Linked DNA regions of Homo sapiens. The protein of the gene in region 1 interacts with the protein of each later gene in a biochemical or structural test. Each region holds a gene or a part of one and is shown on either strand. Other genes may lie near its edges.

The links.
Region 2: the proteins of PEX19 (region 1) and ABCD3 form a complex in vitro, tested with the Homo sapiens proteins (4 studies listed by BioGRID and IntAct, with this or other methods).

What each region holds. Positions count from the first base shown.
Region 1 is NC_000001.11:160,276,276-160,279,342, forward strand, and holds the end of PEX19 (peroxisomal biogenesis factor 19), read right to left. Parts: 3' UTR 532-3,067; downstream 1-531. UniProt on the Homo sapiens protein: Necessary for early peroxisomal biogenesis. Acts both as a cytosolic chaperone and as an import receptor for peroxisomal membrane proteins (PMPs).
Region 2 is NC_000001.11:94,515,664-94,519,204, reverse strand, and holds the end of ABCD3 (ATP-binding cassette sub-family D member 3), read right to left. Parts: intron 2,154-3,541; coding exon 2,076-2,153; 3' UTR 542-2,075; downstream 1-541. UniProt on the Homo sapiens protein: Broad substrate specificity ATP-dependent transporter of the ATP-binding cassette (ABC) family that catalyzes the transport of long-chain fatty acids (LCFA)-CoA, dicarboxylic acids-CoA, long-branched-chain fatty acids-CoA and bile acids from the cytosol to the peroxisome lumen for beta-oxydation.

The DNA.
Region 1 (3,067 bases):
ACAATACTCTTCTTGGTTGCCCATCTATCCTGCTCCTAGGACCACTCACATTCCGTTAGCCATCTCCACTTTGACCTTGCTACCCTTAAGGAAATTTACTCACCTTGCTTCTGAGAGTTAAGTGTTGCCACCTGGCCTCTGCTATGTCAGGATCCTATCATTCCCCCACTGCTACTAGGAAAACAGTTTCTTTTACATCTTGTATCAGCTTCGATCTAGAGAGACAGCCACTTCTAAATTTCTCAAAGATGCTGGTAACCCTTCATCAGTGCCTTTCCCATTGTCTTTATTAAAAAATAATTCCCAGGTCTTTCTGGGGTAGTCAGCTGGTGGGTTTACCAGTGTTATATAACATTCATTCTTGCATACCCATTTCCTCTAAGTCTTTTGGTCCTTTTTTGTATGGTCTGCCGTCTCCACGTCATTCAATATGGGCCAATGTTTTCTCCTAGCTCCCCAAAGCCATCTTAACATCATATTATAACTGCCTCATGGGGCTTTGACAAGACCTTCCAGAGTCACAGGAAAATGTCCCAATTATCAAAAAGTCTGTATTAATTCAATTCTTAATTCATGAAGCCACCCATACAATCACAAATTTATCTAACACATTTAATTTTGGAACAAAGGAGCAACTCCTTTAAAGTTTGAGAGTCGCATAAATATTTCATATACAGCTTAAACCTAAGCTTTGTAACGATTATTTTTGAGCAGCAGAAAAGGAAGGCTAGAGAAATGCTAGAGATGTCCTTACTAGTGACACATTCTTGCTGAAGAACAAGTTCTCTGGAAGTGAAACTCAAATAGGAGAGAACAAGAGATACAGGTAGGTATCAGTTCTGCTAGGGTCTTCAGAGAGACCGAGGGCCCCAAAACAGTGCTACTCAAAGATGATCTGCAGACTTGTGCTGGTCAGTGAACACCTTTTTTTTTTTTTCACCAGTCTGTGACATGGTGAATTAGAAATTGAGAGTGTTTAAAAACTTTTTAGCATTTCAATGTTGCTGTGATATCCAAGTACATGATCAATGGACTTAACCTACAGAACAGTCTGGCCAGTTTGGGTGCTGTCAAACTTGCCGGGTCGGCAGCACACAGTGTGAACTCCATACCTGTCATGGGCAATAGGAATGCATATTGATAAGTGAAGGACTGGAAAACAAAAAACCTGGTCCTTTACCATACATAGTTTGAGAAAGACTGCCCTAGAGTACCATAACTCCACCACAAGTCCTGGAATAATTCCAAAAGTTTTTGGAACAAAGTGTGACCTGAGGTCAACCTGCTCACATTCAATCAAAATCAAAATAAAAATGAGTGCCTTGGGAACAAAGATAAAGTGGACTAGGGCATCTATTTAGATTCCTGGAGTAAGCCCTGGCTAGGCTAGCAGAAGTGAGAATCTGTAAAAGAAAACTGGTAGGACAGAAGGCACAAGGTTCATAGAGAAGGGCTCTTTTGTTCTTCCCTCCTCCTCTCTATCCTTGTCCAGTTTTTGGCTGGAGCTTTAAGGAGAAAATAGTGACACTGAAGCCCCATGACTATATCACAAGTATACCTGTATTTTTTCCATCTCTGGCAGAACAGAGACGTTTTACATTCAGATCTGGGCTCTTCCATGCTCTGGTAAGGTATAGGAGTTGGAATTTCCCAAATAGCCTGAGACCTTGAGAACATTTCCTTCCTCACCAATACCATAAAACATGTAAGGTCTTCAAGGGGTGAAAAGTTTTAACCTCGGGGCAAGTGACATGTCAGAAGCTCAAAGCGACTCATAATGCATGTGAATTTGCTTTGGAGAGACTTATCTTCTGAGTGAACCAGGACAGCCAGCTGAGCTGACCAGAGTACCTACCAACATATGTCAGCCAAGGTCCGTAGACCCACTGGGAGCCACAGAAAAAAAGCCACGTCAGCTTAAAGAAAAATAATTTAGAAAACATAACAATATATTACTAACATTAATAACAATAATGTAAAAGGTTAAAATATAATACCACTTGAAGGGCTTTCTACATTGAAATACTCAAGGGAACATGAGGAAAGATGGCCATCCAGTCTCCTTTGCCAACTGAGGTGCAGACTGAGTTGTGGAAGGTGGGTGTTGATGGAACCCAGCATTACAATATTGTGTAGAACTAGTCTCCTAATATACCTCACTCTGCAACTTACGGAAGCTGAGGAAGATCAGAAAAAGACCACACTCCTCACTCAGAATATTTATTATATTCTGCCCCATGGGGCCTTGCAGGAAAAGGGACCCAAGCTATACCCCTACTCCTTTTCCAAGCTACTTTCCTGAACCAAGGGACAGGATTCTAAGAGAATCATGTATCTCAAATAAGCCAGAATGTATCTGGGGAAGAATAGCCATTAATTTCCTAGACCTGACACTGGGTTTATTTGTGTCTGCCAGGAAGACGGGGAGTCAGTGAGAATCGTAAATGGACTAGATGAGGGGAAATAGGATGGGCCCTTCTTTATCACAGCTTGAGCTCAAAAAGGTTGGGATAAACAGGTGTTTAAAAAAGAGAGGAGGTAAAAGGGAGGATGGGCAGGGGATAGAGGAAGGTCAGGGGCTGGGTTCACCCATATCACACAGCATTGTAGGAAGAAGCAGGGTAACCATTTGAGTTCTCAGCCTGGAACAGGGAGGTGAGGGCTCAGCACCTAGAGAGAGGAGAATCCTAAGGCCTCTCTTTCAACTCTATTGTGATTAGATGCAAAAGCCCTTTCCCTTTAGAGAATTCAGAATGGTCTGTCTGAAGGCAAGAGAGCATAGTGACAGACCTGTAGCCCCAGCCCAGGCTGTTTCTCCCCATTCTCAAAGGCTCTGCCAGGAGAACTATAGAAATACAGAGTCCCAGGTCTCTGCCCCTCCTCCCCAGATCCAAGAGAGGGAGTAGAGACAAGGCACAAAGACCCTGGACGTAAAGGTGAACATCAGTGTGGCCACATATAACATTATTTTGAGAAAGGAAAGAAAGTGCATGCCCCAAAAGGGATGCCTTCCTTCACCTTGCAGGTAGCTGGAACTTTGATAGTGGCAGAAACCACAATGGAGTAG
Region 2 (3,541 bases), about 66 Mb from region 1:
TTATTCTTTGGTTTATTCTTCGGATTAAACTACCATTTCCCACTGCAGTTTCTGGAAGGTGTTAATAGGAATTATGTAGAAAAAGATGTTCCGTGGTCAATCATGTTTTTGAACCAATGGATTTCTTTACTGTGGGTCTTCGAAGAACCACTATTATGTTAATGTGATTCTCCAGAAGGATCTTCCTCTGTGCCTCAAATGGTGAGGCACTGTAATATTTGTTACATAAAAAAGAAAATAATTAAGAAAAAAAGCCCAAATTGTTGTTGTTGTTGTTTTGATGGCAAGAATCATAACAAAAGCAATTATAAGGCAGCTAGGAGAATACTTCTACGAGTAGGTTTAAGGTAACCCAGAAATCTGAAAATCTGAAACTTTCCCATGCCTTAAAATCTTTTCCAAGACGAATAGTATCTTTTAAGGTCTCCTGGCTGTTTGGTAGCATTTGTCAGGTACACAGATTTTACTGAACTTTTCTAAAAGAGAAATTCATTCAATTAAAAACCACACTTGGCAAAACTTTAAAAAAGAGACACTGTGCTAAAAGCATTTTCTGAATTTATTTTTGTGTTTTTCAAGTCAAGATTAAACTATCTATGTTTTCAAGTCAAGGCTGAATTATAAATGAACTTCTCAGTATTTAGATACCAGAATAAAAAGAACAAGCAAAGGTTGTATAGGATATCTGAGTTTTTTTTTTTTTTTTTTAATCTGAACAGAAAATAAGTATACAAGTTCGCTAAACAGAAGTGGTAAAAATTGAATGTTATGTATTATGGAATTCAGTACATCAGTTTACTTCGGTAGCCAGTGATTGTTATAGTTAATTCTGCAAAAAAACAAAACCAGTTATGCAAAAACAAGAGTACAAAATGCCCCTTTCTGAAGCTCAGTTTGAGAAACTGATTTCGTATCTAGCTTATTGATTATACTCAGTTTCAATTCTCCCTGTGCAAATAATACATAAAGTCATTAATGATGATTTGATGAACTGAAATCATCTTCGCTTAGGATCGTTTGACATCATAACCCAAATATAAAAAAGTTATTCAAGATTCACAGAGATAAAACAGTGCCTCGGAAACATAATTCACCCATGTATATATAATAATTTTAGAACATACTTTTTAAACATAAAATCACAGTCAAAGACAGTGATAGCATTGCATACTCAGTGCATTATTTCATGTAGTGCCTTCCTATGGCTCATTTGGAGTTTAATACCAAATAACCACCACACTTCTAATGAATGGGCTTCTAACACACACAAATTTGTCTAATTCTCTTAAAAATCTAGAACTCTTATAAGACCTTGAGCCTGGCATGTTAAGGACTTTGTGTTTTAATATCCCAAACATTGGGAAGATTAGGTGTGATACATGGTAACCCCTCCTTGTAAGCAAGACTGCACATATACTTTAAACAACTCAATACTGCAGACTGAGAGGGGTACATTTATCATTTAGTTAAGGAAAACCAAAATGGCTTTTCCTGGAGTCAAATGCACTCCAAGACACACACAAGGAATGAGTATTACTGTGGCAGCTAAAGAAATCTGCCACTGTATAATAAACGCTGTTATGCAATGATGTTAAACATTTAAATAATACATTATGATTTGTTTCCAACTACCACAGGGCACAGGAAAATGAAACTGAAGACTATCTTGCTAGAACAGGACAAATGATGACCCAGTTTTAAATAGGGTTCTTCACTGAAGGAAAAGATAGAGCCATAAAAGTCCAATTAGCTGACTTCGAATGGTTTACATCCCAGGATGAATCAGGTTACAGTGATTGAAGCCCAATTTAATTTAGGCAGGTTTTTAACCACAAGAATAAGGACATTCTTAGTACATATTATTAATTAAACCAACATATACACAATTAGCAATATCCTATATAATATTAAATGTTTTAACAACTTGTTCTCCATTATTCTGTATCTAGTTAATTTGTTGCTTTGTTTTTTTTTTTAAAAAAAACTAAGCTCAACTTTATTTTACAATGTACTTTGCCTTTCTAAGTATATTCTGTAATTATTTCACTGAAGCAGGTATAGTTCTCCAGATTTCTCTAAGAGCCAAACTCAACTGTATCTTCTGTTATCTGTTTGAATTCATAGTTGCCTCTGCCATCCATATGCAGGTAGTACTATGGGAAAGAAGGGGGAAAAAAAGTCAGTAACTAAGAGTGAATATAGTACTGTCTTTTATGAAAAGTAAAATACAGACTTCCTCATTATTTTAAGGGAGCTAAATCTATAAGCATCCCACAAATCAGAATGCTTCCGTAACTCCATGACCAAGGATCTCAGCTACCAGTAGGTTAAACTGTGCTAAATGCAAGACTGTTCCATAGGTCAGTCAGTATTGTTTCCTGTAGCCTGATTTCCTAATCAGCTTGAAATCTCCAGCTTAAGGCTTTTTATTTGTTTTTAATTTAGTAGAGGGGAAAAAGAGCTATAAAAACTGCCGATATATCCTAACCTCTGAAGACACAACAGCAGTTACAAAGCCTTCTGTTTTTATTTAGTGGCTTATTTTCAGAAAGCTTTCTGAGTTTCCATTTTCTGTATTACTATTTCTTAGCTATCCTGGCCCCTCACATTCTAGTTGTGTTCCCCTCCTTCACATGATCACTGGCGTGATGATTATTTTGCTACTTGTCTATACCTCCAAAAGAAGAGGAAGGGTGAAACCCAAATGCTCTCAATTCCTCTCAATGTCCTATGGCTATAATACTTATGAACTTCCGAGAAAACATAAAGGCTTGGCTATATTTTAAATGCCTTTGATTTCTAGTTATTCAATTTCCTGCTCAGTTCATGAAAAATTGACAAGTTATAATATGCCATAAAATAATAAAAGCTATCTTTAAAAGTCACACAGTTATATAGAATTTCACTGAATTTTATTAAGTACTTTCATATAGGCTACCTGTCTAATTTTCATGGTAATCTAAGAGATAGGAAGGTAAGGCTCAATAACTTCATTATACAAAGGAAGCAACTGAGGCTAGAAACTTTGGTGCCTGAACCCAGGCTCTCTGACTTCAAATCCTATGCTCTTCATTTTATCACTTGTAGACTATCATCTACATCCTAAAGTTCTTGAAGGTAAAAACTGTAATTAATTTGCATCCCTCATGACACTTAGCTCAGTATCTGGCAAAAAAAGGTCCTTAATCAGGTATGTATTTTGTGGAACAAGGCACCTTTACCATTATTCCAATTTTTCTCAAATCCTTGCTTTTACCTAAAATTTCTATATCATTTAGGAAGGAAAAGAAGGAAAGAAGAGAAGAAAGGAAAGAGGGAAGGGGGAAAGACAGAAAGGAAAGAAGAAAAGAAAGGAAGGAAGAAAGGAAGGGAGGGAGGGAGGGAGGAGGAAAGAAAATAAAGAGAATTAAACTGGGTTTACTTTCAGGTTTTGAGCATTTCACATTGAGTTGAAAAGAACTGACATAGTGAGAATGGCACTACTGAAGCACCAGAATAAGTAATACACGTGCACCAATGTAAGCCTCATTTGAATATCTTT